2 separate regions of the Homo sapiens genome follow, and region 1 is linked to region 2. Evidence: fine-mapped expression QTL. A gene starts in region 2. The other region holds a variant in brackets. All regions are shown on one strand. Distances are between the middles of the regions. Region 1 has its middle 19 kb from the start of OR2AP1. Region 2 holds the start of DNAJC14 (DnaJ heat shock protein family (Hsp40) member C14).

Evidence for each region.
Region 1: its variant is fine-mapped to the expression of DNAJC14 in pancreas (GTEx, PIP above 0.99).

Annotation. Positions count from the first base shown.
Region 1 is chr12:55,583,148-55,599,522 of GRCh38, forward strand. No RefSeq gene overlaps it. Among named protein-coding and RNA genes, the nearest start is that of OR2AP1, 19 kb to the left of the region's middle. RefSeq lists an enhancer at 7,108-7,668. The variant G/A (reference allele first, on the strand shown) is at 8,482.
Region 2 is chr12:55,822,402-55,838,776 of GRCh38, forward strand. DNAJC14 (DnaJ heat shock protein family (Hsp40) member C14) reads right to left here and starts at 7,186. Exons shown (of 7, transcript NM_032364.6): 1 at 7,088-7,186; 2 at 4,851-6,313; 3 at 1,001-1,107; 4 at 669-788; 5 at 171-331; 6 at 1-74. The coding sequence starts at 6,257. It overlaps MMP19 (matrix metallopeptidase 19), which reads right to left. Exons shown (of 9, transcript NM_002429.6): 6 at 16,205-16,333; 7 at 15,442-15,606; 8 at 15,154-15,281; 9 at 13,032-14,973. The coding sequence ends at 14,635. It also overlaps the pseudogene TMEM198B. RefSeq lists a silencer at 7,124-7,233 and enhancers at 7,762-8,499, 8,454-8,653.

The sequences.
Region 1 (16,375 bases), 240 kb before region 2:
TAATTGCAAATAAATACCCAAAAGGAAGAGATTATATAGATTATAACTGGCTTATTAATTATTTAAATATTTATTGGCTTGAACTGTGGGTGAACAATTCTTTGCATGAGAAAATGCAGGGAAATTCTAGAACTTTCACAGCTTTGCATAAAGTTATTTCTTCTTCATAGGAGCTTCCTGCATCTTTTTGGACCTTTTGGATGTGAAGTCTCTGATAGCATAGATCTAATTACTCCCAGAATATATACATGCTCACAATGTAGCATCATCATAAATTTGATGGGCTAAAACTGTGCCCACCTAGGTCATCCACCTCTAGACTGCCTAGTACCAGGTTCATACTGTGCATATTTAGTGCCTCTGACTGGTCTGATCCTATATATGAAAAGGGTCTCATTATTATATAACAGAAGCTTGTACATCAAAAGTTGATTCAGCACAAACTGTTACCCCTCCCCACTTATGCCCATATCACTCACTCTTTATTCCACACATATTCTCCCTCTCAAGGCCTTTGGCTTTGGCAATTTCTCACAAAGTAATGTTCCCCTGCAGTTCTTGCCTGATTCAATTAACTTCCTTTTATCAATAGCTGTCATTTTTGTTTGTGTTAGCATCTCCCTTTCTCTGATAAATATTTCACCCTGCTCCAGTCTTGGATTTCTGATGGAACTGTCAATCCACTCATCTCTCCTTATTTGACGTCATTGATAAACATACAAACTGGCCCATTCAATTATGATACCACATTCCCCTAGCTAAAAGATTGAGTCAGAGTTAAGCATATGAACCAAGATGGACCTTATGACCTTTTTGATTTAGACTTGAAAGAAAAGAGAGATGGTGCCATGCTTTCTGGATCATAGATTTCAAGGACTATATATTGGAGACTGTCTACTGTCTTCCAAGTGAAAAAATCTGTCTCAAGAAAAACACCAACCTTAAAAGAAGAAAATGGGGAGAGAGTAACTATGTTTGAGTCCCTGTATTCTAGATCTAGTAACACCTGAAACCAGTTACTGCTGGACTTATACATTATGTGAATTATAAATTTCTGTCTTCACTTAAGATAGTTTGGCTTGGGTTGCTGTCATGTGAAATCAAAAGATTCCTGATTATTCCTTCCCGGATTTTAGTTCTGTGATTTTAAACTAAGCTCTACTCTTCACCATAATACACAATTAATACCCAACAAAAATGGAACTTAGGACATTCCAACCCTATTATTGGCCAAAGTTCTAGGTTCTCCCATGTTATTCTATATTTTTCCTTACTTCTACTCCATTTCTGCATTTGACTGGATCCCGACATGGTGCCCAATGCTCCAAGATGCTTTATTTTTTCTGGGATACATCCATGATATAAGATTATCGGTATCACAATCTCAATTCAGGAAACAGTCTTTCACATCTTGATAAGCCACACGTTTTGTCATTCAAGAAAAAGAGGTATAGATGTATGCCATTTTATGATTGCAGAATAATGGTTTATCTGTGTTATCAGGGATTTAGAATTTAAAAAATGGAGGATTGGTTAACCTACTCCAGGATGACTGCAGTAGAAGAACATAGATATACCTCTCATAATGTGACTAGAGTTGAGAATACTTGTATTCCACATGAATATGAGTACTCACCATAAGTCTTCTTCAACAAACAGACATATACATACATCTATTAAAAAGTTGGTAGACAAGCTGACTTTTTCTGTGGATGAGAACCAATCTTATTCTCCACCACTTTAATGCTTGTTCAATGAGCTCAAAAACAAAGTAAACATTAAAGAAGGACTGTAGAATTATGCATGAGACTTTCCTTACCAAGACTCATCTGGCTACTGTCATTGCTGTGTCCAATCTTCTAATAGCAGAAATCAAAGCCAAGCCTATTGCATGGCACCTGCTACTTTCATATGCAATTGGTTAATTAGTTAATTGCTAATTAGTTAATTGCAAAGGGCCCCTTATATTATAGTGGGGCAGCAATTGTCTTCACTGAAACAGCCCTTCCTTTTGGATATGGATTTCTTCTGCCAGCTCAGCATTATCATCCAAGGGCAAACTGGATGATTTATTTACTATCATTTTTATCCCACAATGTTTCTTTTAAACAAGAAAAAATATTATCAAAATTAAATGTATACATATTTATTATATATTACCTTCTACCTTGATGACCCATAGTTTACCAACACAGAATCTATAACTAACTGCAAATTCCCAAAAGAGAGAAGATAATTGGTTCTGTTTGGCTCATGACTACACTTACTTCATTCTCCTCTGGCCAAGTTCATTCTCTTCTAGTTTTCTCAATATGTGGTGTGGGCTGGAAGAGAAAATAAACAATGAGCTATCTTATGTACTATAAAGTTATATCTTTGTCTTCCTCCTGACTCAAGAATTACCCACAAACACATGTTCCCACAAAGCTGTAGACTAGATTGAATCAATCCCTTCTGTAAATTATACTGTTCTGTTGTTACTCCCTCTTTGTTGCCTTTTCTCTAAACTCTTATTGTCCTGGTGTATATGTTATTGCTCTCCAGTAATTTCTCAGGACCATGTTTCTCTTTCCTAAAGAAATCTGTATGCTATAATTCTCTATCACATTGGCTGCTCAAAAATCCATACTTGGCACACTCATCTATTAAGACTCTCTGTCTAAAGCCAAACTGTGATCGGAGGAGAGAGATTGTTCACAAGTTAATCACAGACATCATCTAGGATCAACCTCAAATACAAACATTCCTCTCACCAAACATAGCTGAGAATTAATCCTGTGTATAGGACTCTAGGTCAAAGCCAAACACTGATCCTTCCAAGACCATGTCCCTCTACTCCTTCCAATCTGAAATTCCTTTTGTCAGGGAGAGTCATATTTAGCAGCTATTAGGAGTCACATGACACTTATCATTTCCATGTAAACATTTAGAGATCGCAAGTGGGTAAACTTGGAGAAGTTTGAGCCAGAGTGCCAGGAACAAGTGGAAGAGCAGTTCTCAAGCCTTAGAAGAAATAGAGGAAGAACAAGACCTCCTACCTCTCATCAGAGGACAGTTATCAGGGTACAAAAGACTGAAAGAGAAAAGGAGTTTCTGGGAGGAAATACTAAACCACACTCCATCTCTCACATTTCTTGACCAATGTGTGAGACCATCACAGCAACAGAAGGTAAATGCCCTAACTATCTCCCTCTTTAGGAGTCATATGGTGTAATGAACATTAAGAAAACAAGTTATATTGTCTAGCTTTATACATAAATATAATAAAGGTATTTTATTTAACATTATGCCCAGGACACACTAGACTTCTCAAAAAAACATATCATTGCAAAATGACAGTGCTAAGTCCTTACCTAACAATAATAACTTTGAATGTAATGAACTAATGTCTCCAGTTAAAAGACATAGAGGTCTGAATGAAATAAGAAAAACAGCATCCAACTGTATGCTGCCTACAACAAACTCAATTCATCCTTAAGGACACTACAGACTGAAAGTGAAGAGATGGAAAAAGATATTCCATTCAAATGGAAACCAGAGCAGCAGCTATACTTACATCAGATAAAATATACTCTAAGCCAACAACTGTAAAAAGAGACAAAGGAGGTCATTATACAATAATAAAGGGATCAATTCAGCAAAAGAATATAACACAGATGCAGCAATCTTTAACAAAATACTAGCTAACTGAATCCAACAGCATATCAAAAAGATAATCCACCGTGATCAAGTGGATTTCATACCAGGGATGCAGGGATGGTTTAACATACACAAGTCAATAAGTGTGACATACCACATAAACAGAATTAAAAACAAAAATCACATGATCATTTCAATAGATGCAGGAAAAACATTCAACAAAATCCTGCATCGCTTTATGATTAAAACTCTCAGCAAAATTGGCATACAAGGAAGATACCTCAATGTAATAAAAGCCATCTATGACAAACCCACAGCCAACATAATAGTGAATGGGAAAAGTTGAAAGCATTCCCTCTGAGAACGGGAACAAGACAAGGATGCCTAGTCTCACCATTCCTCTTCACCATAGTACTATAAGTCCTAGCCAGAGCAATCAGACAAGAGAAAGAAATAAAGGGCATCCAAATTGGTCAAGAGGAAGTCAAATTGTCACTGTTTGCTGACGATATAATTGTTTACCTCAAAATCCCTAAAGACTCCTCCAGAAAGCTCCTAGGACTAATAAAAGAATTCAGCAAAGTTTCTAGATACAAGATTAATGTATGCAAATCAGTAGCTTTTCTATACACCACAGGGACCAAGCAGAGAAACGAATCAAGAACTCAACCCCTTTTACAATAGCTGCAAAAAATATAAAATACTTAGGAATATACCTAACCTAGGAGGCAAAAGACCTCTACAAGGAAAACTACAAAACACTGCTGAAAGAAATCATAGATGACACAAATAGAAACACATCCCATGCTCATGGATGGGTAGAATCAATATTGTGAAAATGACCATAATGCCAAAAGCAATCTACAAATTCAATGCAATCCCCATCAAAATACCACCATCATTCTTCACAGAATTAGAAAAAAAAAACAATTATAAAATGCATATGGAACCAAAAAGAGCTCATGTAGCCAAATCAAGATTAAGCAAAAAGAACAAATCTGGAGGCATCACACTATCTGATTTCAAACTATACAATAGGGCCACAGTCAACAAAACAGTGTGGTACTGGTTAAAAAAAAAAAAAAAATAGGGACATAGACCAGTGGAACAGCATAGAGAATCCAGAAATAAGCCCAAATACTTAAAGCCAACTGATCTTCAACAAAGTAAACAAAAACATATAAAGTGGGGAAAGGACATCATTTTCAAAAAATGGTGCTGGGATATATGGCTAGCCACATGTAGGAGAATGAAACTGGATCCTCATCTCTCACCTTATACAAAAATCAACCAAGATGGATTAAGGACTTAAACCTAAGACCTGAAACTATAAAAATTCCAGAATATAACATTGGAGAAACCGTTCTAGACTTTGGCTTAGGCAAGGATTTCCTGACCAAGAACCCCAAAAAAATGCAATAAAAACAAAGATAAATAGTTGGGGTCTAATTAAACTAAAGAGCTTTTGCATGGCAAAAAGAACAGTCAGCAGAGTAAGCAGACAATCCACAGAGTGGGAGAAAATCTTCACAATCTATATATCTGACAAGGACTAATATCCAGAATCTACAACAAACTCAAACAAATCAGTAAGAAAAAAAAGCAAACAATCCCATCAAAAAGTAAGTTAAGGATGTGAATAGACAATTCTCAAAAGAAGATATACAAATGGCCAACAAACGTATGAAAAAATGCTCAACATCACTAATGATCAGCGAAATGTGAATCAAAACCACAATGTGATTCCACCTTACTCCTGCAAGCATGGCCATAATCAAAAAATCAAAAAACAGTAGATTTTGGCATAGATGTGGTAATCAGGGAACACTTCTACACTGCTGGTGGGAATATAAACTAGTACAGCCACTATGGAAAACAGTGTGGAGACTACCTAAAGAACTAAAAGTAGAACTACCATTTGATTCTGTAATCCCACTACTGGTTATCTACCCAGAGGAAAGGAAGCCATTATATGAAAAGATACTTTCACATGCATGTTTATAGCAGCACAATTCACAATTGCAAAATTGTGGAACCAACCGAAATGCCCATCAGTCAACAAGTGGATAAAGAAACTGTTGTGTATATATATATATACATATATATATGATGAAATATATGATGAAATACCACTCAGCCATAAAAAGGAATGAATTAATGGCATTTGCAGCGACCTGGATGAGACTGGAGACTATTATTCTAAGTGAAGTAACTCAGGAATGGAAAACCAAACATCGTATGTTCTCACTGATATGTGGGAGCTAAGCTATGAAGATACAAAGGCATAAGAATGATACAGTGGACTTTGGGGACTTGGGGAGGAGGTTGGGAAGGGGGCAAGGGTTGAAGATTACAAAAAGGGTCTCGTGTTATCGCCCAGGTGATAGGTGCACCAAAATCTCACACATCACCACTAAAGAACTTACTCATGTAACCAAATACCTCTTGTACCACCAATAACCCATTGAGTGGAAAATAAATAAATAAATAAAAATAAAATGTGTTCTAAAAAAAGAATTAATAAAGATCAAAGCAGAAATAAATAAAATTGAGACTAAAAAAATACAGAAGATCAACAAAACAAAAAGTTGGTTTTTTGAAAAGATAAAATTCACAAACCTTTAGCTGGACAGAAAAATTAAGAGAAAACACAAATAAGTAAAATCAGAAATGAAAAAGGAGCCCTCACAAGAGAAACACAGTAATATAAAGGGTCATTAGAGACTGCAATGAACAACTATATGCTAATGAATTCAAAAATCAAAAGTAAATGGATAAATCCCTCAACACATACAACCTACTGAGATGGAGCCTAGAGGAAACCGAAAACCTGAACAGACATGAACAAGTAACAAGATTGAATCAGTAATAATAAAAAGTCTCCCAACAAAGAAAAGTCCAGAACTAGATGCCTTCAAAACTGAATTCTACCAAACATTTAAAGAAAAATTAATATCAGCTATTCTCAAACTATTCCAAAATGTTGATGCAGAGAGAACTTTTCCCAACTTATTCCCTGAGGCCCTGATTCCAAAACCAGAAAAGAACACAGAAAAAAAAAAACCATGGGCCAATATTCCTGATGAACATACACACAAAAATCCTCAACAAAATACTAGCAAACAAAATCAAACAATATATCAAAAACATAGGGAGGAGCCAAGATGGCCGAATAGGAACAGCTCCGGTCTACAGCTCCCAGCATGAGCAACGCAGAAGATGGGTGATTTCTGCATTTCCATCTGAGGTACCAGGTTCATCTCACTAGGGAGTGCCAGACAGTGGGCGCAGGTCAGTGGGTGCATGCACCATGCGCGAGCTGAAGCAGGGCCAGGCATTGCCTCACTCCGGAAGTGCAAGGGGTCAGGGAGTTCCCTTTCCTAGTCAAAGAAAGGGGTGACAGATGGCACCTGGAAAATTGGGTCACTCCCACCCGAATACTGCGCTTTTCCGACGGGCTTAAAAAACAGCGCACCACGAGATTATATCTGGCACCTGGCTCTGAGGGTCCTACGCCCACGGAGTCTCGTTGATTGCTAGCACAGCAGTCTGAGATCAAACTGCAAGATGGCAGTGAGGCTGGGGGAGGGGCGCCCACCATTGCCCAGGCGAGCTTAGGTAAACAAAGCAGCCAGGAAGCTCGAACTGGGTGGAGCCCACCACAGCTCAAGGAGGCCTGCCTGCCTCTGTAGGCCCCACCTCTGGGGGCAGGGCACAGACAAACAAAAAGACAGCAGTAACCTCTGCAGACTTAAATGTCCCTGTCTGACAGCTTTGAAGAGAGCAGTGGTTCTCCCAGCACGCAGCCGGAGATCTGAAAACAGGCAGACTGCCTCCTCAAGTGGGTCCCTGACCCCTGACCCCCGAGCAGCCTAACAGGGAGGCACCCCCCAGCAGGGGCACACTGACACCTCACACAGCAGGGTACTCCAACAGACCTGCAGCTGAGGGTCCTGTCTGTTAGAAGGAAAACTAACAAACAGAAAGGACATCCACACCAAAAACCCATCTGTACATCACCATCATCAAAGATCAAAAGTAGATAAAACCACAAAGATAGGGAAAAAACAGAACAGAAAAACTGGAAACTCTAAAAAGCAGAGTGCCTCTCCTCCTCCAAAGGAACGCAGTTCCTCACCAGCAATGGAACAAAGCTGGATGGAGAATGACTTTGACGAGCTGAGAGAAGAAGGCTTCAGACGATCAAATTACTCTGAGCTATGGGAGGACATTCAAACCAAAGGCAAAGAAGTTGAAAACTTTGAAAAACATTTAGAAGAATGTATAACTAGAATAACCAATACAGAGAAGTTCTTAAAGGAGCTGATGGAGCTGAAAACCAAGGCTCGAGAACTACATGAAGAATGCAGAAGCCTCAGGAGCCGATGCGATCAACTGGAAGAAAGGGTATCAGCAATGGAAGATGAAATGAATGAAATGAAGCAAGAAGGGAAGTTTAGAGAAAAAAGAATAAAAAGAAATGAGCAAAGCCTCCAAGAAATATGGGACTATGTGAAAAGACCAAATCTATGTCTGACTGGTGTACCTGAAAGTGATGGGGAGAAAGGAACCAAGTTGAAAACACTCTGCAGGATATTATCCAGGAGAACTTCCCCAATCTAGCAAGGCAGGCCAATGTTCAGATTCAGGAAATACAGAGAATGCCACCAAGATACTCCTCCAGAAGAGCAACTCCAAGACATAACTGTCAGATTCACCAAAGTTGAAATGAAGGAAAAAATGTTAAGGGCAGAGAGAAAGGTCAGGTTACCCTCAAAGGGAAACCCATCAGACTAACAGCAGATCTCTTGGCAGAAACTCTACAAGCCAGAGAGAGTGGGG[G/A]CCAATATTCAACATTCTTAAAGAAAAGAATTTTCAACCCAGAATTTCATATCCAGCTAAACTAAGCTTCATAAGTGAAGGAGAAATAAAATACTTTACAGACAAGCAAATGCTGAGAGATTTTGTCACCACCAGGCCTGCCCTAAAAGAGCTCCTGAAGGAAGTGTTAAACATGGAAAGGAACAACCGGTACCAGCTGCTGCAAAATCATGCCAAAATGTAAAGACCATCAAGACTAGGAAGAAACTGCATCAACTAATGAGCAAAATAACCAGCTAACATCATAATGACAGGATCAAATTCACACATAACAATGTTAACTTTAAGTGTAAATGGACTAAATGTTCCAATTAAAAGACACAGACTGGCAAATTGGATAAAGAGTCAAGACCCATCAGTGTGCTCTATTCAGGAAACCCATCTCACGTGCAGAGACACACAGAGGCTCAAAATAAAGGGATGGAGGAAGATCTACAAGCAAATGGAAAACAAAAAAAGGCAGGGGTTGCAATCCTAGTCTCTGATAAAACAGACTTTCAACCAACAAAGATCAAAAGAGACAAAGAAGGCCATTACATAATGGTAAACAGATCAATTCAACAAGAAGAGCTAACTATCCTAAATATATATGCACCCAATACAGGAGCACCAAGATTCATAAAGCAAGTCCTGAGTGACCTACAAAGAGACTTAGACTCCAACATATTAATAATGGGAGACTTTAACACCCCACAGTCAACATTAGACAGATCAACGAGACAGAAAGTCAACAAGGATACCCAGGAATTGAACTCAGCTCTGCACCAAGCAGACATAATAGACATCTACAGAACTCTCCACCCCAAATCAACAGAATATACATTTTATTCAGCACCACACCACACCTATTCCAAAATTGACCACATACTTGGAAGTAAAGCTCTCCTCAGCAAATGTAAAAGAACACAAATTATTACAAACTATCTCTCAGACCACAGTGCAATCAAACTAGAACTCAGGATTAAGAATCTCACTCAAAACTGCTCAACTACATGGAGACTGAACAACCTGCTCCTGAATGACTACTGGGCACATAATGCAATGAAGGCAGAAATAAAGATGTTCTTTGAAACCAACGAGAACAAAGACACAACATACCAGAATCTCTGGGACGCATTCAAAGCAGTGTGTAGAGGGAAATTTATAGCACCACTAAATGCCCACAAGAGAAAGCAGGAAAGATCCAAAATTGACACACTAACATCACAACTAAAAGAACTAGAAAAGCAAGAGCAAACACATTCAAAAGCTAGCAGAAGGCAAGAAATAACTAAAATCAGAGCAGAACTGAAGGAAATAGAGACACAAAAAACCCTTCAAAAAATTAATGAATCCAGGAGCTGGTTTTTTGAAAGGATCAACAAAATAGATAGACCACTAGCAAGACTAATAAAGAAAAAAAGAGAGAAGAATCAAATAGATGCAATAAAAAATGATAAAGGGGATATCACCACAGATCCCACAGAAATACAAACTACCATCAGAGAATACTACAAACACCTCTACGCAAATAAACTAGAAAATCTAGAAGAAATGGATAAATTCCTTGACGCATACACTCTCCCAAGACTAAACCAGGAAGAAGTTGAATCTCTGAATAGACCAATAACAGGATCTGAAATTATGGCAATAATCAATAGCTTACCAACCAAAAGAGTCCAGGACCAGATGGATTCACAGTCGAATTCTACCAGAGGTACAAGGAGGAGCTGGTACCATTCCTTCTGAAACTATTCCAATCAACAGAAAAAGAGGGAATCCTCCCTAACTCATTTTATGAGGCCAGCATCATTCTAATACAAAAGCCGGGCAGAGACACAAGCAAAAAAGGGAATTTTAGACAAATATCCTTGATGAACATTGATGCAAAAATCCTCAATAAAATACTGGCACACCAAATCCAGCAGCACATCAAAAAGCTTATCCACCATGATCAAGTGAGCTTCATCCCTGGGATGCAAGGCTGGCTCAATATACACAAATCAATAAATGCAATCCAGCATATAAACAGAGCCAAAGACAAAAACCACATGATTATCTCAATAGATGCAGAAAAGGCCTTCAACAAAATTCAACAACCCTTCATGCTAAAAACTCTCAATAAATTAGGTATTGATGGGATGTATCTCAAAATAATAAGAGCTATCTATGACAAACCCACAGCCAATATCATACTGAATGGGCAAAAACTGGAAGCAGTCCCTTTGAAAACTCACACAAGACAGGGATGACCTCTGTCACCACTCCTATTCAACATAGTGTTGGAAGTTCTGGCCAGGGCAATTAGGCAGGAGAAGGAAATAAAGGGTATTCAATTAGGAAAAGAGGAAGTCAAATTGTCCCTGTTTGCAGATGACATGATTGTATATCTAGAAAACCCCATTGTCTCAGCCCAAAATCTCCTTAAGCTGATAAGCAACTTAGCAAAGTCTCAGGATACAAAATCAATGTACAAAAATCACAAGCATTCTTATACACCAACAACAGACAAACAGAGAGCCAAATCATGAGTGAACTCCCATTCACAATTGCTTCAAAGAAAATAAAATACCTTAGAAATCCAACTTACAAGGGATGTGAAGGACCTCTTCAAGGAGAACTACAATCCACTGCTCAAGGAAATAAAAGAGGATACAAACAAATGGAAGAACATTCCATGCTCATGGATAGGAAGAATCAATATTGTGAAAATGGCCATACTGCCCAAGGTAATTTACAGATTCAATGCCATCCCCATCAAGCTACCAATGACTTTCTTCACAGAATTGGAAAAAACTACTTTAAAGTTCATATGGAACCAAAAAAGAGCCCGCATCGCCAAGTCAATCCTAAGCCAAAAGAACAAAGCTGGAGGCATCACACTACCTGACTTCAAACTATACTACAAGGCTACGGGAACGAAAACAGCATGGTACTGGTACCAAAACAGAGATATAGATCAATGGAACAGAACAGAGCCCTCAGAAATAACGCCACATATCTACAACTATCTGATCTTTGACAAACCTGAGAAAACCAAGCAATGGGGAAAGGATTCCCTATTTAATAAATGGTGCTGGGAAAACTGGCTAGCCATATGGAGAAAGCTGAAACTGGATCCCTTCCTTACACCTTATACAAAAATTAATTCAAGATGGATTAAAGACTTAAACATTAGACCTAAAACCATAAAAACCCTAGAAGAAAACCTAGGCATTACCATTCAGGACATAGGCATGGGCAAGGACTTCATATCTAAAACACCAAAAGCAATGGCAACAAAAGCCAAAATTGACAAATGGGATCTAATTAAACTAAAGAGCTTCTGCACAGCAAAAGAAACTACCATCAGAGTGAACAGGCAACCTACAAAATGGGAGAAAATTTTCGCAACCTACTCATCTGACAAAGGGCTAATAACCAGAATCTACAATGAACTCAAACAAATTTACAAGAAAAAAACAAACAACCCCATCAAAAAGTGGGCGAAGGACATGAACAGACACTTCTCAAAAGAAGACATTTATGCAGCCAAAAGACACATGAAAAAATGTTCATCATGACTGGCCATCAGAGAAATGCAAATCAAAACCACAATGAGATACCATCTCACACCAGTTAGAATGGCGATCATGAAAAAGTCAAGAAACAACAGGTGCTGGAGAGGATGTGGAGAAATAGGAACACTTTTACACTGTTGGTGGGACTGTAAACTAGTTCAACCATTGTGGAAGTCAGTCTGGCGATTCCTCAGGGATCTAGAACTAGATATACCATTTGACCCAGCCATCCCATTACTGGGTATATACCCAAAGGACTATAAATCATGCTGCTATAAAGACACATACACACATATGTTTATTGCGGCATTATTCACAATAGCAAAGACTTGGAACCAACCCAAATGTCCAACAATGATAGGCTGGATTAAGAAAATGTGGCACATATACACCATGGAATACTATGCAGCCATAAAAAAATGATGAGTTCATGTCCTTTGTAGGGACATGGATGAAATTGGAAATCATCGTTCTCAGTAAACTACCACAAGAACACAAAACCAAACACCGCATATTCTCACTCATAGGTGGGAATTGAACAATGAGATCACATGGACACAGGAAGGGGAACATCACACTCTGGGGACTGTTGTGGGGTCGGGGGAGGGGGGAGGGATAGCATTGGGAGATATACCTAATGCTAGATGACGAGTTAGTGGGTGCAGTGCACCAGCATGACACATATGTATACATATGTACCTAACCTGCACAATGTGCACATGTACCCTAAAACTTAAAGTGTAATAATAAAAAGAAATAAAAAATAAAAAATAAAAAATAAAAAAAATAAAAATTACAAAAAAAATTATCAAGTAGTTTACTCTTAAAAACATTTAAAAAATTAAAAATTTCATAACATTCTAAAAAAAAAACCATAATACACCATGACTAAGTGGGATGTATCCCAGGAATGCAATGATGTTCCAACATAGGCAAATCAATAAATGTGATTCATCATATAAAACAGAATGGAGGACAAAAACCATATGATCATCTCAATAGATGAAGAAAAGATACCTGATAAAATTCAATATCCCTTCATGATAAAAACTCTCAAAAAATTAAGTATGGAAAGAAAGTACCTCAACAGAATAAAGGCCTTATATGACTAAACCCATTATACTGAATCTAATGTCTAACATACTGAAGCTAACATTATACTGAAAGCTTTTCTTCTAAGAACTGAAACCAGACAAGGGAGTACACACTCACCACTCATTCCACATAATTGAAGTCCTAGTCAAAGTAATTAGGCAGGAGAAAGAAATGAAAGGCATTCAAATTGGAAAGGAGGAAATCAAGTTGTCTCTGTTTATATATAAAAAATCCTAAAGACTCAACCTAAAAACTCTTAGAACTGAAAAGTAAAGTCGTAGGATACAAAATCAGCATGCAAAAATCAGTAGCATTTCTATACATGAACAACTAACTAGCTGAAAAAATAAATAAGGCAATCCCATTTACAATAGCTATTAAAAATAAAATAGCAAGGAATAAATTTAATGAAGGAAGTGAAAGACGTCTGCAAGGAAAACTACAAAACACTGATGAAAGAAACTAAAGAGGATACAAACAAATGGAAAAGATATCACATGCTTGTAGGTCAGAAGAATTAATATTGTTAAAATGACCATAATCCTAAAGCAATCTACAGATTCAATGCAATCCATATCAAAACACCAATGACATTCTTCACAGAAATAGAAAAAAAAATCTTAAAATGTGTATAGAACCTCAAAAGACTTCCAATAGGCAAAGCACTCCTGGACAAAAAGAACAAAGCTAAAGGCATCACATTACCAGGCTTCAAAATATACTACAAAGCTGTAGTAACAAAAACAGCATGGTACCGGCATGAAAACAGACACATAGACCAATTGAATAGAATAGATAACACAGATATTAATACACATATCTATAGCCAACTGATTTTGACAAAGGCACCAAGACAGTCTTGGGGAAAGGACAGTCTCTTCAAGAAATGGTGCTGGGGAAACTGGATGTCCATATATAGAAGAATGAAACTAGACTCCCACCTCTCTCCCTACAAAAATCAACTCAAAATGGATGGAAGACCTAAATGTAAGACCCAAAACTATAAAACTTCTAGAAGAAAACGAAGGGGGGAATCTTCATAACATTGGTCTGGGTAATGACTTATTGGATATAACAACAAAAGAATAAGCAACAAATATAAAAATATAGACAAATTAATTACATCGAATTTAAAACCTTCTACACAGTGAAGGAAACAATCAACAGAGTGAGGAGGCAATCTATAGAATGGGAGAAAATATTTGCAAACTATTTATCTCACAGGAGATTAATATCCAAAATACATAAGGAACTCAAACAACTCAGTAGCAAGAAAACAAATAACCTAATTTAAAAACAGGCAAAGGACCTAAACAGAAATTTCTCAAAGGAAGACATACAAATGACAACAGGTATATGAAAAAAAAATGTTCAACATCACTAATCATCAGAAAAATGCAAATCAAAACCACATGAGCTATCACCTCACTCCTGTTGAAATGGTTATTACCATCTGGGTGTGTGGCTTATGCCTGAATCCCAGCACTATGGGAGGCCAAGGCAGGAGGATTACTTGAGCCCAGGAGTTTGAGAATAGCCTGGGGAATATAGTGGGACCTCATCTCTACAAAAAATAAAAATAAAAAATAAATACTGGGGGCACTGTGGCATCTCTACAAAAAAAAAATAGTGGGGTCACTGGGACCTATAGTCCTAGCTACTCTGGAAGGTGAAGTGGAGAGTTCATTTGAGCCCAGAAGATGGAGGTTACAGTGAGCTGAGATTGTGCCACTGCACTCTATGCTGGAAAACAGAGAGAGACTCTGTCAAAAAAAAAAAAAAAAGGATTGTGGGGCCAAGATGGCCAAATAGGAACAGCTCCAGTCTACAGCTCCCAGCATGAGCAATGCAGAAGATGGGTGATCTGCATTTCCAACTGAGGTACCGGGTTCATCTCACTGGGGAGTGTCGGACAGTGGGTGCAGGACAGTGGGTCCAGCACACTGAGCGTGAGCAGGGCGAGGCATCATCTCACCCAGGAAGTGCAAGGGGTCAGGGAATTACCTTTCCTAGTCAAAGAAAGGGATGATAGACAGCACCTGGAAAACTGGGTCGCTCCCACCCTAATACTGCACTTTTCCAACAGTCTTAGCAAATGGCACACCAGGAGATTATATCCCGTACCTGGCTCAGAGGGTCCTATGCTCACAGAGCCTCGCTTGTTGCTAGCACAGCAGTCTGAGATCAAACTGCAAGGTGGCAGCAAGGCTGGGGGAGGGGCGCCCACCATTGCTGAGGCTTGAGTAGGTAAACAAAGCGGCTGGGAAGCTCGAACTGGGTGGAGCCCACCATAGCTCAAGGAGGCCTGCCTGCCTCTGTAGACTCCACCTCTGGGGGAAGGGCATAGCCAAATAAAAGGCAGCAGAAACCTCTGCAGACTTAAATGTCCCTGTCTGACAGCTTTGAAGAGAGTAGTGGTTCACCCATCACACAGCTGGAGATCTGAGAATGGACCGGCTGTCTCCTCAAGTGGGTCCCTGACCCTGAGTAACATACCTGGGAGGCACCCCCCAGTAGGGGCAGACTGACACCTCACACAGCCAGGTACTCCTCTGAGACAAAACTTCCAGAGGAATGATCAGGCAGCAACATGTGCTGTTCACCAATATCCACTGTTCTGCAGCCTCCGCTGCTGATACCTAGGCAAACAGGGTCTGGAGTGGACCTCCACCAAACTCCAACAGACCTGCAGCTGAGGGTCCTGACTGTTAGAAGGAAAACTAACAAACAGAAAGGACATCCACACCAAAGCCCCATCTGTATGTCACCATCATCAAAGACCAAATGTAGATAAAACCACAAAGATGGGGAAAAAACAGAGCAGAAAAACTGGAAACACTAAAAATCAGAGCACCTCTCCTCCTCCAAAGGAGCACAGCTCCTCACCAGCAATGAAACAAATCTGGACAGAGAATGACTTTGACAAGTTGAAAGAAGAAGGCTTCAAACAACCAAACTACTCTGAGCTAAAGGAGGAAGTTCAAACCCATGGCAAAGAACTTAAAAACCTTGAAAAAAATTAGACAAATGGAATAATCAATGCAGAGAAGTCCTTAAAGGACCTGATGGAGCTGAAAACCAAGGCACGAGAACTACATGATGAAGGCGCAAGCCTCAGTAGCTGATTCAATCAACTGGAAGAAAGGGTATCAGTGATGGAAGATCAAATGAATGAAATGAAGTGAGAAGAGAAGTTCAAAGAAAAAAGAATGAACAGAAAT
Region 2 (16,375 bases):
AGAACCAAATGAGATGTGATAGGGGACTCTGTGGGTATCTGGGGAGATACCTACACGCTGGCATCCAGCCCACTCTATAAACATGAGAAATAATTAGCCAAAACGTCGCAGTTTAGAGCACATAAAAGATCAGGAAGTATGAGCCTGTATTTCTAGAGGACAGAGAGTACCTGTGATGTCATACACCTTTCCATCCATCAGTGCAAAGTAGGTGATCTTGAGGCCCAACATGCTTGACTCTGCCCAAAAGTCTCCTTCCTCAGCAGGATGCAGCCTATTACACTCAGCACAGTATCTGGCACTCTTAGGTTCCCGGTCCATTTCAAACCTCCTGCAACCAACAAAAGGATAGTTCCTTAATAATTTGTCAAGCCTACCTAGGGCACTGCTAGTAGTCTTACCATTATTCACAAATAGGGCTGAAACATCTAAAATTACCCCACTTAGTATTTCATATCCCTTCAACGTTCTATCCTAAAGCTAATGTTTCTTAGTGCTAATTAAAATCGTCAGTCTATTGACAATATGACAAAGGTAGAAACTTAAGGGTCTTTTTACTAATTATGAGATACAGATGTAACTCATAATTACCAGTACTCACTAGAAAGATCCTTGGTTACATAATCCCTGAGCTGTGATTGTCCCATCCCTCTCCTTCTATTTCATACCTATGCTTTCCTTGGCATCGGCTACACATCATAGTATTCATTGCCTCCTTGAGGTCATCTTGCAGCTTGGACAGAAACTCATTTACTGACCGGCTCAGCTCATTCTCTGCCATTCGTTTCCTAATAGAAGAAATGCTTTGTAAGTCAGAAGGTATTGAGGGAGGGACAAAGGAAGACATATCAGTTGGCCTCTTGAGGCCCCTGTCTAGCGAGAAAGACAAGTGACTTCAGTTCTCTCCATCTCAACAAGCCTCCACCCCCAAGTCCAGATGCCTCTGCTATTGAGGATTTTTCATTTACCATTATCTGATGATTTCCCATCTCCAACTTACATCTCATACTCCTTTCGCTTTTCAGCATTGCTGACAATGTCCCAAGCTGCTCGCAAAACCTTGAAGGCCTCCTCAGCCCGGGGATGATGATTTTTGTCAGGATGAACCTACCAAGACAGAGAGATTTCATTACAAATCCATTCCAACCCTCTCCTCACCTTGAATTTATTCTCATATCAAAGGGTTCTCTTTCATCACCCTTTTGAAGAGTCAGTGTAGCTTAATGATTAACTGCTCTGACTCTGCAGATCTGGTTCAATTCATGGCTCTGTTATAATTAGCTACATTACCTTGAATATCTTTTTTTTTTTTTTTTTTTTTGAGATGAAGTCTCGCTCTGTCACCCAGGCTAGAGTGCAGTGGCACGATCTCAGCTCACTGTAACCTCCACCTCCCAGGTTCTAGCAATTCTCCTGCCTCAGCCTCTCTAGTAGGTGGGATTACAGGCATGCACCACCACACTCAGCTAATTTTGTATTTTTAGTGGAGACGGGGTTTCATCTAGTTGGCCAGTCTGGTCTCGAACTCCTGACCTCAAGAGATCTGCCTACCTCAGCCTCCCAAAGTGCTGGGATTACAGGCGTGTGCCATCATGAATATCTATCATGGATTGTTGGGATTATCTATCATGTCAGCCTGAATATCTATCATGGATTGTTGGGAGGATTAAATAAGAATATATATGAAGTATGTAGCAAAGAATCAGGTACTACGGTGGATTCATCATTCCAGTTTGCCTGAGACTGTCCCAGTTTTAGCACTAAAAAGTCCCATGCCTCTAGAAACTCCTCAATCCCAGATGAACAGGGACAGTTGGTCTCTGGCACACACATGTATCAGTCATAAAATAAGAGTTCCAAAGATGTTACATCTTGAAACTCTTTTTTAACTAGAAAATTCTCATATCCAAAACTTCCTACAGTGATATGCCTTTCAGTCCCAGAAATGAAATAGCATATCATGGTCTCAGAGACTTTATGTACTTTTCAGCCTTCTCTCCAAGACAAGTAATATCCTCTCTTCCTACAGCTTCCTGATTGTACCCATCCCCATTCCCCAAAAATGCAGAGATAAAGCTAGTCTCCTGACTGATGCCAAATAACTAAAATGCTGTCAAATTTCCCACATTCCCAAGCTAATTGAACAGCCTTTTAGTCATGTTCACACTAGGGCTTAGTAAGGCAGTGAGAGGTTCAATAAAAGCCCAGAGACACTCTGGTCCAGGACAGAGAGAGATCTTTGGGGTATAGGGATAGATGTTTTGAGGTTAGGGGAACTTAACTACATCTCTACTTCAAGAGAAATTGAAAAATGAGAATTTTTGTTAAGAATAATATTCTCCAAAACAGGATGTCTACTAAAAGAAAGTGAGAAAAGAGCTCTACTACTAGTAGAATTAGTAACAATGAGAGTAAACAATTGTTACCCACTCTAAGAATACAGCAGAAGCCAAGCGCAGTGGCTCACGCCTGTAATCCCAGCACTCTGGGAGGCCGAGGCAGGCAAATTGCTTGAGTCCAGGAGTTCGAGATCAGGCTAGCCAACATAACAAAACCCCATTTCTACTAAAAATACAAAAAATTAGCCAGGTGTGGTGATGCACGCCTGTAGTTCCAGCTACTCAGGAAGCTGAGGTGGAAGCCACCTAAGCCTGGGGGATCAAGGCTGCAGTGAGCTGAGATCCTGCCACTGTACTCCAGCCTGGGGAACTGGAGTGAGACCCTGTCTCAAAAAAAAAAAAAAAAAAAAAAGAATATACCAAGCTACCTACTAAGGGGCATACATTTCCCACCAAATTAATTCAGTCCTTTGGTAAGTTACAGGTGTGGTGGTTTACTGTACCTTTAATCATTAATGGAAACTTTAGTTGCCCATTCCTCTTTGGTGTCATGCAGCCATTGAGGTAATTTGCACACTGTGATGTTTTACCAGTCCAGCTCCATACACTCCAGTGTAAGTAGGCCTCCAATTTACACACCTTACTTATATTCATAATAGTTTTATTTGTACAGAAATAGCAGTAACAATCTGTTATCTAATATCAACCTAATATCTACTTCTAATGCAATTTGATTGCATGCTTGTATTAAACCATTTCCCTCAAGCATAAGGTGCATGACAACTCCCATCTGCACACCCTCTTTTTTTTTTTTTTTTTTTGAGACGGTGTCTTGTTCTGTCGCCCAGGCTGGAGTACAGTGGCGCGATCTCGGCTCACTGCAAGCTCTGCCTCCCAGGTTTACACCATTCTCCTGCCTCAGCCTCCCGAGTAGCTGGGACTACAGGCGCCCGCCACCACACCCGGCTAATTTTTTTGTATTTTTAGTAGAGACAGGGTTTCACCATGTTAGCCAGGATGGTCTCGATCTCCTGACCTTGTGATCTGCCCACCTCACCCTCCCAAAGTGCTGGGATTACAGGCGTAAGCCACCGCGCCTGGCCCTGCACACCCTCTTATCAATAAAAGCAACCATATTTTCATGTATGACATACATATGCATACACCTCCATTTTCTTGCCCTCTCCTATTCTGAGTTGCTGATCTTGAAACAGCCTGTTTTCTCCTACCTGGTGCTAAAATCCTTACATGCACTCCCTGACCCTCCCATACTAGGTCCATATTTGCTTCTCTGGGAGAAATAGTTGGGTTACCCCATGTTTAAAAAAAAAAGAAAACCCTCATTTGTTCAGGTAAGAGCAACTGAGGTGCTCTCTGAATAGGTCTTTTTCCCACTCCAGTTAGAGGGACTTCACCTAGATTTTCCAGGTGAGTGAGTTCTACACTGCCCAATATACCAGGTTCAAAGAATATATCTCGTGACAAACAAAATGGAGGGAAGATCAGATCCCATAGTGGAGGGGAAAATATCTTTTTTTTTTTTTTTTTTTTTTTTGAGATGGTGTGGCTTGGTTGCCCAGACTGTAGGTTCATGATCGCAGCTTGTTGCAGCCTCGACCTCCTGGGCTCAACTGATCCTCCCACCTCAGCCTCCCGAGTAGCTGGGACTACAGGCATGTGCCACCAAGCCTGGCCTCCCAAAGTGCTGGGATCACAGGTGTGAGCCACTGCACCTGGCCCAAAAAGTCTTTATGACTCTTTCCTAAGACTATGTTAACCAGCTGGGCACAGTGGCTCCTGCCTGTAATCCCAGCACTTTGGGAGACTGAGGCGAGCGGATCATGAGGTCAGGAGATCGAGACCATCCTGGCTAACACGGTGAAACCCCGTTTCTACTAAAAATACAAAAATTAGCCAGGCACAGTGGCAGGCGCCTGTAGTCCCAGCTACTCGGGAGGCTGAGGCAGGAGAATGGCGTGAACCCGGGAGGCGGAGTTTGCGTGAGCCAAGATCACGCCACTGCACTCCAGCCTGGGCGATAGAGCGTGACTCCGTCTCAAGAAAAAAAAAAAAAGAAGAACGTTAACCTTCACCTACCCGTTAACTTTCTACTCTGCCTTCCCTTTATTCCACTCTCCCTAAAACTGGAATAGAAAATATAGGAACAGGCTGGGACCAGTGGCTCACACCTGTAATCACAGCACTTTGGGAGGCTGAGGTGGGTGAATCATGAAGTCAGGAGTTCGAGACCAGCATGACCAACATGGTGAAACCCCATCTCTACTAAAAATACAAAAAAAATTAGCCGGGCATGGTGGCGCGCACCTGTAATCCCAGCTACTCAGGAGGCTGAGGCAGGAGAATCGCTTGAACCCAGGAGGCGGAGGTTGTAGTGAGCTGAGATTGTGCCACTGCACTCCAGCCTGGGTGACAGAGCGAGACTACATCTCAAAAAAAAAAAAAAAAAATATGGGAACAAAAGAGAGAAACAGGAAACAGAAGGGTACTCACCATCACTGCCAGCTGTCTATAGGCCTTCTTCAGTTCAACATCTGATGCTGTGGCCTCAACCCCCAGTACATGGAAAGGGTTTAGCTCATCCTCAGGAACCCCAGCCATGGTCAAGAGTCGAGCCACTTCCTCTTCAGGCTGGCAGTAGCGCCCACTAGCTACAGGTGCATTCCCCTGCCTATTAATATTCTGCTTGACCCAAGGCAACTCCAGCCAGCCCCACTGAACTATTCTTACCAGCCGCTGCCATGGCCTGCTATCTCTCAGCAGAGTCAAGCAACGCTGCAAGGCTGGAGAATCCAGCCAAGAGAAGAGCCAGGTAGCCTTATCCCTCCAGCCTAACCGGTCACCTAGTCCCACCAGAAACCGCCATCCCAACTGTAGAAAGCCCAAAAAGAGGGCCAGAGCCAGGAGCAGCAAAGCACCCAGCAGCTTAAGAAAACGAGTAAACAGTCCTACTCCACAGTAAAACCCCTGGCTTAGAAACTGAAACATGACCTGGGCCCAGCCCCCTAACCGCCCTGTCCACACTCCCATCCAAACTCGAAAAAGGTCCAAATCACTGCTTTTCAGTTGCCTGCAGGCATAGATGAGATGGCCACAAGTTTCTACGTACTCTCCCACCAATACCAGCAGTTCAATCAGCCACCAAAAGCCTGCCTGTCCAAGTTGACATAGTTCCTCGGCTCCCCACAATCCCAGGCCTTTGCGCTTATCTGCCTGACTTCGTTTCCGACCCAGCCGATGTCGACCAGGGGACCTGGGATCCCTACGTCCACCCTCCCGAGTATCCTCCTTCGTTGGAAAGCGGTGCCGCTGTCTCCGGGATGGGGGTTTCTTTCCGCTGGACACACGTGAAAAATCACTGGGGAACTTGAGAGATTCTTCATCATCATATTCCTCTTCCAACTCATCTTCCCCCAAAGCTGGAGAGGTACAGTGGTGGCAAAAGTTGCTAGAAGAACCATTTCCTCCCTCAGAGTAAGGCCCTTCTGGAATTCCAGGTGTTCCCTGGCAGTTGCAAGCAGATGGAATGGAAAGAAAAGAGTTCCCATCCTTCTGGTTCCCAGTCTCGTTTTCTTTTGAGAGTTCCTGGTCCACTCCTGATTCTTCTTCTGAAGACGTCTCACTCTGATCAGGGTCCTCTGCATCTCTAGGTGGTCCTGGACCCCCTGGGGGGCCATGGCTTGGGTCCAACCAATGGGCTGGGTTTGGGTGCTGTGTGTGCTTAGGACCAGAGTGCTCTGTGAGGCAGCGGGTACCATTAGGAGCAGTCCCTGCTGAGTCCCTGAGTCCTGAGAATGAAGGTATTTCAGGGTCCACGGAGGGTCCTAAAGTCCTGAGGGAGGCACCACCACTGTGGTGGGCTCCATACAACCCTCTTTCTCCGGGGTGCTTCTGGGCCATGACCCCGGGGCTTCCTGAGGGTCTTAGGTCACAGCCATCATGGTGTGTTCTGATGCCTGTAACAGATATCAAGGTGGAGACAGTCAAGGATGAGACCAAGAGAGGAATTAAACAATCTCAAATAGTGGACACATTTAATTCATCCACCTCCCTTGTTTTCCCAAGTTCTTTTGGGGCATTCGCTATTCCTAGCAATAAGCCAAAACTAGACTCACCACAACCCTGCTTGCTCCCTCCCCTCTCCTCCAAATCACTTAAGTTTTTCTTCTTTCCCCAGAAAACTATAACCTTCAATCAGGGAAACAGGGAGGTACCGTAAAGGGTGTGGTCGGGGGAGGGTGGGTCACTCTTAGGAAAATGGGAAAGACCGCCGGAAAGGGGGCCACAGACTTCCAGTAATGGGTGGGGGCCATGCGGCCCTGGAGGAAAATCTGGGGGCGGAGCTTAGGGCTGCCCCTAAGAAAGACTAACAGGGAACCCACCGGCTGTGTAGAAGGGACGAAGGTGGCCGGGCACCGTGGCTCACGCCTGTAATCCCAGCACTTTGGGAGGCCGAGGCCGGCGGATCACGAGGTCAGGAGTTCGAGACCAGCCTGGCCAACATGGTGAAACTCCGTCTCTACTAAAAATACAGAAATTCGCCAGGCGTGGTGGCGCGCACCTGTAGTCCCAGCTACTCGGGAGGCTGAGGCAGAAGAATCGCTTGAACCCGGGAGGTGGAGGTTGCAGTGAACCGAGATCGTGCCACTGTACTCCAGTCTGGGTGACAGAGCGAGACTCCATCTCAAAAAAACAAAAAAAAACGAAAAAAAAAAAAAAGACGGACGTACCGAAGAACGGCGGTAACTCCTCCCCCTCGAGCCGCCCGGCCTGGGGCCAGGGTGAGCTACGAGAGCCGCTCTCCCGGCTCCGCCTCCCGCTCACGCTCTGCTTCCGCCTTCCGTCCCCGCGGCCGCCGGCGACCTGGGCCTACTTCCACTTCCGGGGTCACCAGGGAAGAGACGGGAAGGAAAAGAAATAGCGGTTGGCTGAGAGGCAAGCCAATCCAGCTAGGGCTGCGTCGACTCCAAGGAGGCGGTCCTAAGGAAGTACTGGCCCCGCCATTTAAAGGCCCCTCCCTCCGCGTGTGGGAATGGGATTCCCGCAGGTTGCACCGCAGGAAGCAAGGCAGGTGGACTCTGCACCAATGCCTGCAGACTAAGGGCAGACTCTCAGGATTGCTCTGGGTGTATTCCTAGGCTTTGTATTCCTGGGAGATGGAGGGCAGCCACCGAGCCACATATAGTCTTTTTCCCTTGCAGACAAAACCAGGGAGCTCAGAAGAGTCACTGCCCTGATCCCTTCCGTGCCGGCAGCTGCGAGGACACAGGCCCCTTTGTATCCTGCGGTGCGGAGGTGGAGCAGAGGAGAGGGTGCCCCGGCTGGCCCCCTCCCTCGCCCCGCAGCACTGCCCCTCCTTTCACAGCAACCCACGGCCTCCCCCGCGCTTGACCCAGCTGGCGAGCTGCCCCTTATACCTGGATCCGCCCCTCGGGTCGCAGCTCCCCAGGCCCGATCACCGAGCGGTGCCTAGGAACTGGGAGCGTAACTTGGCTCGGCTCAGAACTTTGCCCGTGAGCCAAAGAACACTGAACTCATCTACCTGCTGCTTGACATCTCATCTGCATACCAAGCTATTTGGTGGACGTCCACAAGCGCCCCCGCCCCCACGTAGACCCAGTTGGGTCCCCGTTCCGTCGGTCCCCTCCTCTGCACACGCCTCTAGCCTTATACCCCGTCTTGATCCGAAAGTTTTTCCACCCATGAACCCCCAGTTGGCGCTCCCCGACCAGCAAAAGCCCCTTCCCTGGTCCACGATCCCGACCACCCGGTTCTCCAGGAGACAATACTCCAATTCTCTGGAAAGTGGAAGAAACCAAGCTGAAGCTAGGGGGGCGCTGGGACCCCTATTGGGGCTTTGAGAGCTTCCGGTTGTCATCTCCTAAGTATTCGGAGACCCTTCTCCAAAACTCTTGGGGTGACCCTCAAGACTCTTACCTGCTATATAGTTGGGGGTCTCTGGTCCTGGACTAGAGCAGTAGGCAACCTGGGTCCCCCCACACACACGGGAAAGAATTGGAGGGGCCTGCCTTGTGATGTCACCCCTCCTCCCCCCACCGCGCGCACGCGCGCGCGCACACACACAAACACAAACACACACCCCAACACACACGCCCTGTCCCCTTTCTCCACCCTGCAAGCTAGTTGCATTTAGCTCACAGAGCCTGGGCTGCGACTTGAAAGAGTTTAGGCAGCAACAGAGTGACCCTGGGGGTGCTCTTGACCGACAGCCGCACCCCCGGCGTCTAGGACCTCCGAGCAGGGATGCATCTGGAGGTCTAGGGAAGCACTTCCACCCCCTCCTCTCCTCAATCCTGGCAGGATGGTGAGTAGTTAACATCCCCTCCCCAACCCCCGCTTGTCCAGGGTCCCCAGACTTCCAAGCAGATTGAGGAGAGGAGCTCCGAGAGTCAACCCTCCAGCCTGTAAGGACCTTGATATCCAAAGGACAGCTGAAGAAAGTAATGTGCCTGCATTTTTGCCACTTCATTCCCACAGTGCCCGAAATGCCAGCTCCTCCTTGGTGTTCTCCTTTCAGGATTTGAATTCAAATCCCATTGGCAGCCCTGATACCGCTGGGGGAAGGGTGAGGTAGGAAAAGTCCCACCAATATCCTAAGGGGAGGTGCGAGTGGCTACCAGGATGTGAGATGTCTGTGGGCAAAGTCCCTGCTTATTCCATGAGGGGCTGTGGGATTAGGACTGTGGCTGGATGCCTCTTCCTCCAACAACTCCATCTCAGCATGAAGCTGAGGCTTTAAAACCCTGACAAACTGTGGGTGACTGTCTCTACTTAATTCCTCCTCCCAAACTCTTGGTGTCTGGTTTTTTCCCTCTTTCTGCCCTGGGCCTGGAGCAGCTGTCCAGAGACCCCCACCATGACTCATACTCTCCTGTTCTCCCTCCCTCTCCCCTCTCTATTAACCTCACCCTTCCCAATCCAGTGGGGTAGTATTAAGTCCCAGTCGCAGATGGGGCAATAATGTCCCAGCACCCCTCCCTCCACACACCCAGGGCTTCCTGTTCTTTCCACCCTCACCCTGAAGAGCTGCAGGGTGGTGGGGGGAGGCAAAGGCTCATTACTTTATAAGATTTTCATTACTTTATAAGATTTCATTTTACATTTTACTTAAGTGTACTTGTTTCAGAGAGTGGTAAAGACAGATCCTGCTCCTCTCAATCCAATCCTGTAGATTTCTTCAGTTACCTCAACAGGGTCATACTGGCTCCTGAAATGGGCACCATTATTTAAAAGAAATAGAGGTACAGAGTCCTCAAGATTTATGGGCACCTGAGTTTCTGCCCCGTGCCCCGCTGCAGGTTTCCCAATCCCCTAAAGACATTCATGGATGGGTGAGAGGAGCTGACACCTCCCGCTCTGTGACCACTTTCTCTTTGGCCATGGAGGAAGTCTTGCTGCCCCTGGCTGTGACATCTGACCCCAGGCCCTTTAATCAACAACTCCCAGAGCCTCCAGACCCAAGATGTGTTTTGGAACCCCAGGACAATCCTGAACTGGCACTTGCCCTGGTGTGTGCCCTTTGCTGCTGCTTTGGAATCATCTACTGCTGCTTCAGTGAGGGCAGGGCCAAGGACCTGGGGGGCCATTGCCCAAGACTGTCATCCTCAAGGATGATGCCAGCTTTCCTCCTTGCTCCTGGGCCATCTCACCTCCTCTGCCAGGGGTTCCTACCTCTAGTGTGGCCCATGTTGCTCTGGCTGTATTCCTAGGCCCATGTTGCTCTTGCCAGCTTCTTGTCCATCCTCCATGCCCATGCCTTCCAGCTTTCACCTCTGGCATCTATCATTTGCTCTTCTCTTAACTCCTACCTGAAAACCCCATTCCTAAATTATTCACTATATTTCAGACTTCTTCACTCTTCTCCAAAAACCTGAATCAGCTTGTGCTGATTTTTTCCTATCTGCTATCCCTAAAAGGACTAGACCTTCTTTCTATCCTTACTCCCCTCAATGTATCCATCTTACCTCTTGATTTTCCCTCCCATTCCCTCACAGTTCCTGAAACAGTGCCCCCCCCCGACCCTAAGCGACCCCTTTCTGCCCCTGGCCTTGAGGTCCCTTGACGTGCTGCTCCTGTCTTCTGCTCCTCTAGTGAGCCATTCCTCTCCCTTGGAATTCATCAGAGTCATCCCTGTAGAGCCCCCTTCCTGCCTCTCAATTCCTCCTGCCTCACTTCCCAGGCTACTGCTGCTTCAAGACAGTGACGTTTCTCTCCGGTCAGCTGTCAGGAGCGCTGGTGAGCTTCCTACTGTGCCACAAGGTGCGGGTGCTGGAGACACAGCTGAGCCTGGAAATGAGAGTGGGCATCGCCGTGGTCATCATGACTCCTCTGCGGCGTGGTCACCATGTTGGTTCACTGTGTTGGGCTCTTATTGACGGGTCTCCTGCTAGGCCTGACCTTGGGTGCCGGAGCCCTGCTGGCTTCTGAGCCTATCTACCAACCACCTTCAGCCTGGGTGCCAGCTGGGGGGCTGGTGGGGCTGGCGCTGCTGGGAGCCCTGCTCACACTTCGGTGGCCACGTCCATTCACAGTTCTGGGCACAACCCTGCTGGGTTCTGCAGTGCTTGTGGCCTGTGTTGACTACTTCCTGGAGGGGCTGGCACTGGGGAGTTGGCTGGGCCAACGCCTGCAGACACTTCCAGCCTTGCCTTCTCTCTGCTGATATAGCTGGGTCTTACTGGGGATCTGGCCAGCCTTGGGGGCCCTTGGAGCCCTGGCCCAGTGGAAGCTCGTGCCTGAGGAACATGGAGGCCACGCTAATGGTGAGTTAGTGCTGTGGTACAGAAGCAGCCAACCTGTGCCTACTCATGTCCCCAGTTCCTAGACTTAAGGAGGGAAGGGGAGAAATACACTTGAGGAAGGAGAGTGGGGGAGGATGTCCAAGGTGAATGGGGCAGGGCACTGAAAAAAAAAGTTGAAGGAGTCAGGGGAAGCAGGAAAGAGTTACAGAAGGAAAGGAGGATCTCAGGGAAGTCTAGGAGGAAAAATAGAATTTCGAAGAATTTCTTTTAGAATGAATTGTCGGGGGGGTGCTGGGCACGGTGGCTCACGCCTATAATCCCAGCACTTTGGGAGGCCAAGGCGGGCGGATCACGAGATCAGGAGATCGAGACCATTCTGACTAACACGGTGAAACCCTATCTCTACTAAAAATACAAAAAAAAAAAAAAACTAGCTGGGCCTGTTGGCAGGCGCCTGTAGTCCCAGCTACTGGGGAGGCTGAGGCAGGAGAATGGCTTGAACCCGGGAGGTGGAGCTTGCAGTGAGCCAAGATCGCGCCACTGCACTCCAGTCTGGGCGACAGAGCGAGACTCCATCTCAAAAAAAAAAAAAGAGGAATAAATGGGGGGGGAAGATGAGGCTTGAGAGAAACAACAGGAAGGTCAAATGGGTTTCTTTAGAATGTGAGTGTGTATAGGGTAGGATTCAGGGCCTAAAGAGGCCTTCTTGAGTCTGTATTGCCCCCTCCGAAGCAGTGGTCTTTTTTTTTTTTTTTTTTTTTGAGATGGAGTCTCACTCTGTCACCCATGCTGGAGTACAGTGGCATGATCTTGGCTCACTGTAACCTCCGCCTCCTGGATTCAAGTGATTCTCATGCCTCAGCTTCCCGAGTAGCTGGGATTACAGATATGCATCACCATGCCCGGCTAGTTTTTGTATCTTTAGTAGAGATGGGGTTTCACCATGTTAGCCAGGCTGGTCTTGAACTCCCAACCTCAAGTGATCCACCCACCTCAGCCTCCCAAAGTGCTGGGATTACAAGTGTGAGCCACCGCGCCCGGCCAGCAGTGGTCTTAAGCCACCAGCAAAGCCATCTCCAACTCCTTCAGACCCTTCAGCAAAAGGCCAAATGGCACTGGATCCCCTCTGGGGTGGGGCTTTGTGAGGGCAGCTGTCGGCATCAGCTCCCTGCCAATACCTGCAGCCCTGCTGACAGTCTCGCTCCAGTGAGTGGGGGACTTGGGGACACCCTGGGCAGATGGAGCAGAGGACATATGGGGATGGTCAGGGTGGGAGGGGGGCTCTGACCCAGGCCCCTCCTTACTCCCTCTCTGCCCTGTGTCCCTCCAGAGTTACTTCCAGAGTCTTCAAGAGTGCCAACTGGGACCAGGACCCCAGACCACAGCCCCCCACACCGTCCTGGACCTGGATTCTGACTGTGGTTCCACTGTACCCCTCACCTTAATCTCTGGTTCTAACCAGACCTGAGCCTAGACTTCCACTTTTTCCCTTACCCCTGTGAGGGCCTGGGAACACTAGGTGGGCAGGGTTTGAGCCCACAGGACCTGCACACAAACTTCCCCACCTCTTGGACTTGGGGACAGGATCTGTGCCTCAACCCAGACCAGCTTTGTAGGGATATGTTCCAAGAACAGAGAAGAGTCTTATGGGGAAGGGGGAGGAAGGGAAGTATGAATATTTACCTCTGACCAATAATAGAGGTGCCCTGGTCCCCAAAGAAATTGACTCCCGAATTCCCTCCAAGCCTTACCCATATAGCTTTTGTTTGTTTGTTTGTTTTCAGACAAGGTCTTGTTCTGTCCAGTGCCGTGGCGTGACCACAGCTCATGACAACTTTGATTTCCCCGGCCCAAGCGAGCCTCTCATTCAGCCTCCTGAGTGGCTGGGACCACAGACGCCACACACAGCTAATTTTTATGTATTCGTTTTTATTTTTTTGCAGAGACAGGGTCTCCCTATGTTGCCCAAGCTGGTCTTGAACTCCTGGGCTCAAGTGATCCTCCTGCTTCAGCCTCCCAAAGTGCTAGGATTATAGCCACCGCACCTCGTCTTGAAATAGCCTTTTAAATGTTCACCTCAGCTTGCCTCACAGTGGTAAAAATAAGCATTTTTTTGTTTTGTAGGATCAGGGAGCTTCCAAGGCATTTGATACCTTTTTGATGGGAAGAAGGGCTCTGAGGAGCTCCAAGATACCCCAACCTCCAGGCCCTTCATTAGGGGGTAGTTGGGTTTCTGTTTGGCCTTTCCCCCTGGGCCCCATAGGCTTAAACTACCCCCACCCCCACCTCCGCCTCCTACCTCAGCTGGGAGCACTGTCTTCCATGGGGCTTCCACTTCTCTCCTCAACCTGGGGAAGACCACAGGGCAGTGCCTGCCTCAGGACCTGCCTTCCCCAAAAGCTGGCTTCTTGCTCCAAGGAGAGAGCATTGACCCACCTGCCAGAGTCTTGCCTTTTGCCCAAAGGAGCCTGGTCTTCAGGGCTGCATAGGATGCAAGTGCCTTCTCTGCTTCTCACCGTGGGTGGCACTAATTTCCTCCTTAACCAGAACTTTGTTCCAGCCACTGACCCATTCTAACTCTTCCCCCTCTGACTCTCCTGCGCAGGGTCTGTTCCTGGTTTCCCAGATGCATAAAGGAAGACATATCCCTCCCCTGGGCAGCAAGGCTACAATGGGAGGGAGGGAGAACATGGGAGCATGTGAATAAAATGGCATTAAATACTGAACCAGGGAGTCCAGCCTCTGCTGTTGCTGCTCTTTTCTTTCTCTGCACCCCAAAACAAAGAGCTAACCATCTTGACAAATCCTCTGTCCCCTAAAGATCTAATAGAGATGCCCTTATTATACAGACTACTGTAAGAGTTATACAGCCAGACAGCTAGAGGAAGAGCTGTTCAGTCCTCTCTTATGAACATGGAGTTAGCTTTTATTAAACACAAATGTACCAGACACTGTGCCAGGCACTTCACATACAGTATTTCATTTAGTGCAACAATCCTGCAGTACTGGTCTTAACCTAATGTTGCAAATGGGGAATCTGAGATTCAACAAGGTTAATTAGCTTGCCCGTAATCATAAGCACATAAATGTGATTCTCAAGGATTCCAAGGCCCTTGCTCAGTTTACTGGCCATGCTGTTTTCTTGCATTTTATGTAGGAAGAACAGGACCCAGGCATCTCCCTCCACCATTGACCTCCAGAGAAGAGATGACACAGTTGGAAGGGCTGTCTAAGACAGACAGGAAATGGAGTTGGGGGCCAAATCTAAGTTAGGGGATCTGAGTTAGGGGAGCACTTCTCAGGAGTGAAAATGCACAGGAAAGTGGTGGCTGGAGTTGGAAGTGTTAGAGGCCTGAGATCTACGGTCTTGCGCCTGCTACAGCACCTGCAAGGTTCTACTGAGCAGACAGGTATTTCATTCAGCTATTAGGCCTTAGGCTTCTGGGGGGGAAATGAAAGGGTGGGTGGTGGAGCCTCAGGGGTTAATGTCCAAGATTGTGTCTGTGGGTGAGCAGTCAGTATTCAAACGTGGTTTCTGTGGCTGAGAGAGTGGTATCCAAGGTTATGCCCGTACCTGAGGGAGTGGTATTCCCACCTGATGGGGTAGTGTCTATAGTCCGGGGACGACAGTGCATCCAGTTGTGGGAAATATTTCTGGGATAGCCTTTCTCTACTCGAAGCTGCTGGTTGAGGCGCCAGTAGACTTTGCCCTTGAAGAAGTAGACTCGGCCATCTTGCCAACTCATAGCAGCCGAGGGCTGGTTTGGCACTCCCGTAAACAAACCCTTGATTGGTTTGGGGTAGCTGCTGAAGTCAGTTCGGGCTAGCTCGTCCCACTGCCAGTACCCGGAGCCCTGGATATGGGATGGGTGGGGAGAGGGGAGAGGAAGAGGAGAGAGCTTAGGACCCCCAGGGGTCCACCCCCAGCCCACTGCAGCTGCAGAACATCTCCCTTCAAGCGCAAGCTTTGCTTCTCAGTATAAGGTAGCCCACTCCTCCTAAGAAGGGATTTGCCCTTGCTTTGAACTTTATACCTTAAAGAGGAACACCTTTTGGTTGAGAGGCCAATAGAGAGCTGCATCCAGGTTAGGTTCTACCCTATTCAGCTTCTTGGGGAAGCCAGGAGACATCTTGAAATTAATGTAGCGCCACACCTTGTCTCCTGAGAGCATGTGAGGAAAGAACAAGTCACCTCTGTCCTCAGGTGATAGCTTTTGGTCTCCTCCGGTCCACCTATTCAGAAACTTCTCATCTCCCTCCCTTTTATAGTTTCTTTAAGATTAGGCCCTCCTCAAGTAAGACACTGTAACTAGCCTCCTTACCCTTAAAGAAGTGAATCCATTGTGTTCGAGGCGAGTAGACAGCAGCATCCAGGTTTCCGGGGAGCCCCTCCCAAAGGGCAGACACTCGGAACAAGGGGCCCGGTCCTGAATCTGATACAGTCCACACATAGTCCCCCTTGAAAGCATAGGTCTTCCCACGGGGCCCTGAGCGTAATGGTGTGTCAACAAGTCAAAAAGACAGAGGTCAAGTAGACAGAAACTTGGGGGTATCTCAGGCTGACTAACAATTTGCCCTCTCCCTGCAGGCTGATTCTTCAAAAATTCATTCAACTTTAATTCAAAGAGAAAATTAAAGGCAGACAAAGAGGACTCAGAATGCTTTGTTGCTCAGAGCGTTTCAGCTTTGGTCCACTCAACAAAACAAAAGCCCTGCAGATAGCTATTCCTCCTTAGGAACCTCACCCTCCCCTCCAAGTGGCTTCCTAGTTGTCCTTCCAACCAGGTGCACCCTCTCTAACAGGCAATCTGGGTAATATAGTTTTCTCCATCTTGCTGCATTTCCAGATGTGTTCTAGTGGCCCTTAGAGCGTGGCAGCCTTGGTAAGTGCCTGCCTAAGCCACCTTTAATTTGGCTCCGAACTCTCCCTCCCCATGTCACATGTCTCCTTCCATGGTCATTAATGCCTGGGGTCTAACCTCCATTGCTCATGCTGAAGTCCCATGTCACTCCCATTTGTCCAGGCCTCAGGATCAGCAGGCTGCCCCCACCGCCTGCCAACAGCCTGGAGGGGAGGGGCCTCACCCAGCATCATGGCATCCAGTTCACTACTGCAAGGGTCTGGCATGGGACTGGGTTCTGTGGGCACTGGGGGCACAGTGGGCAGCTCTGTCTCTTCTTCTTCCTCATCCCTTATCACTGGACTCTTCTTGCCTATAAGGTAAAGTAATGCTGCTTAGGGAGAGAACTCACAGC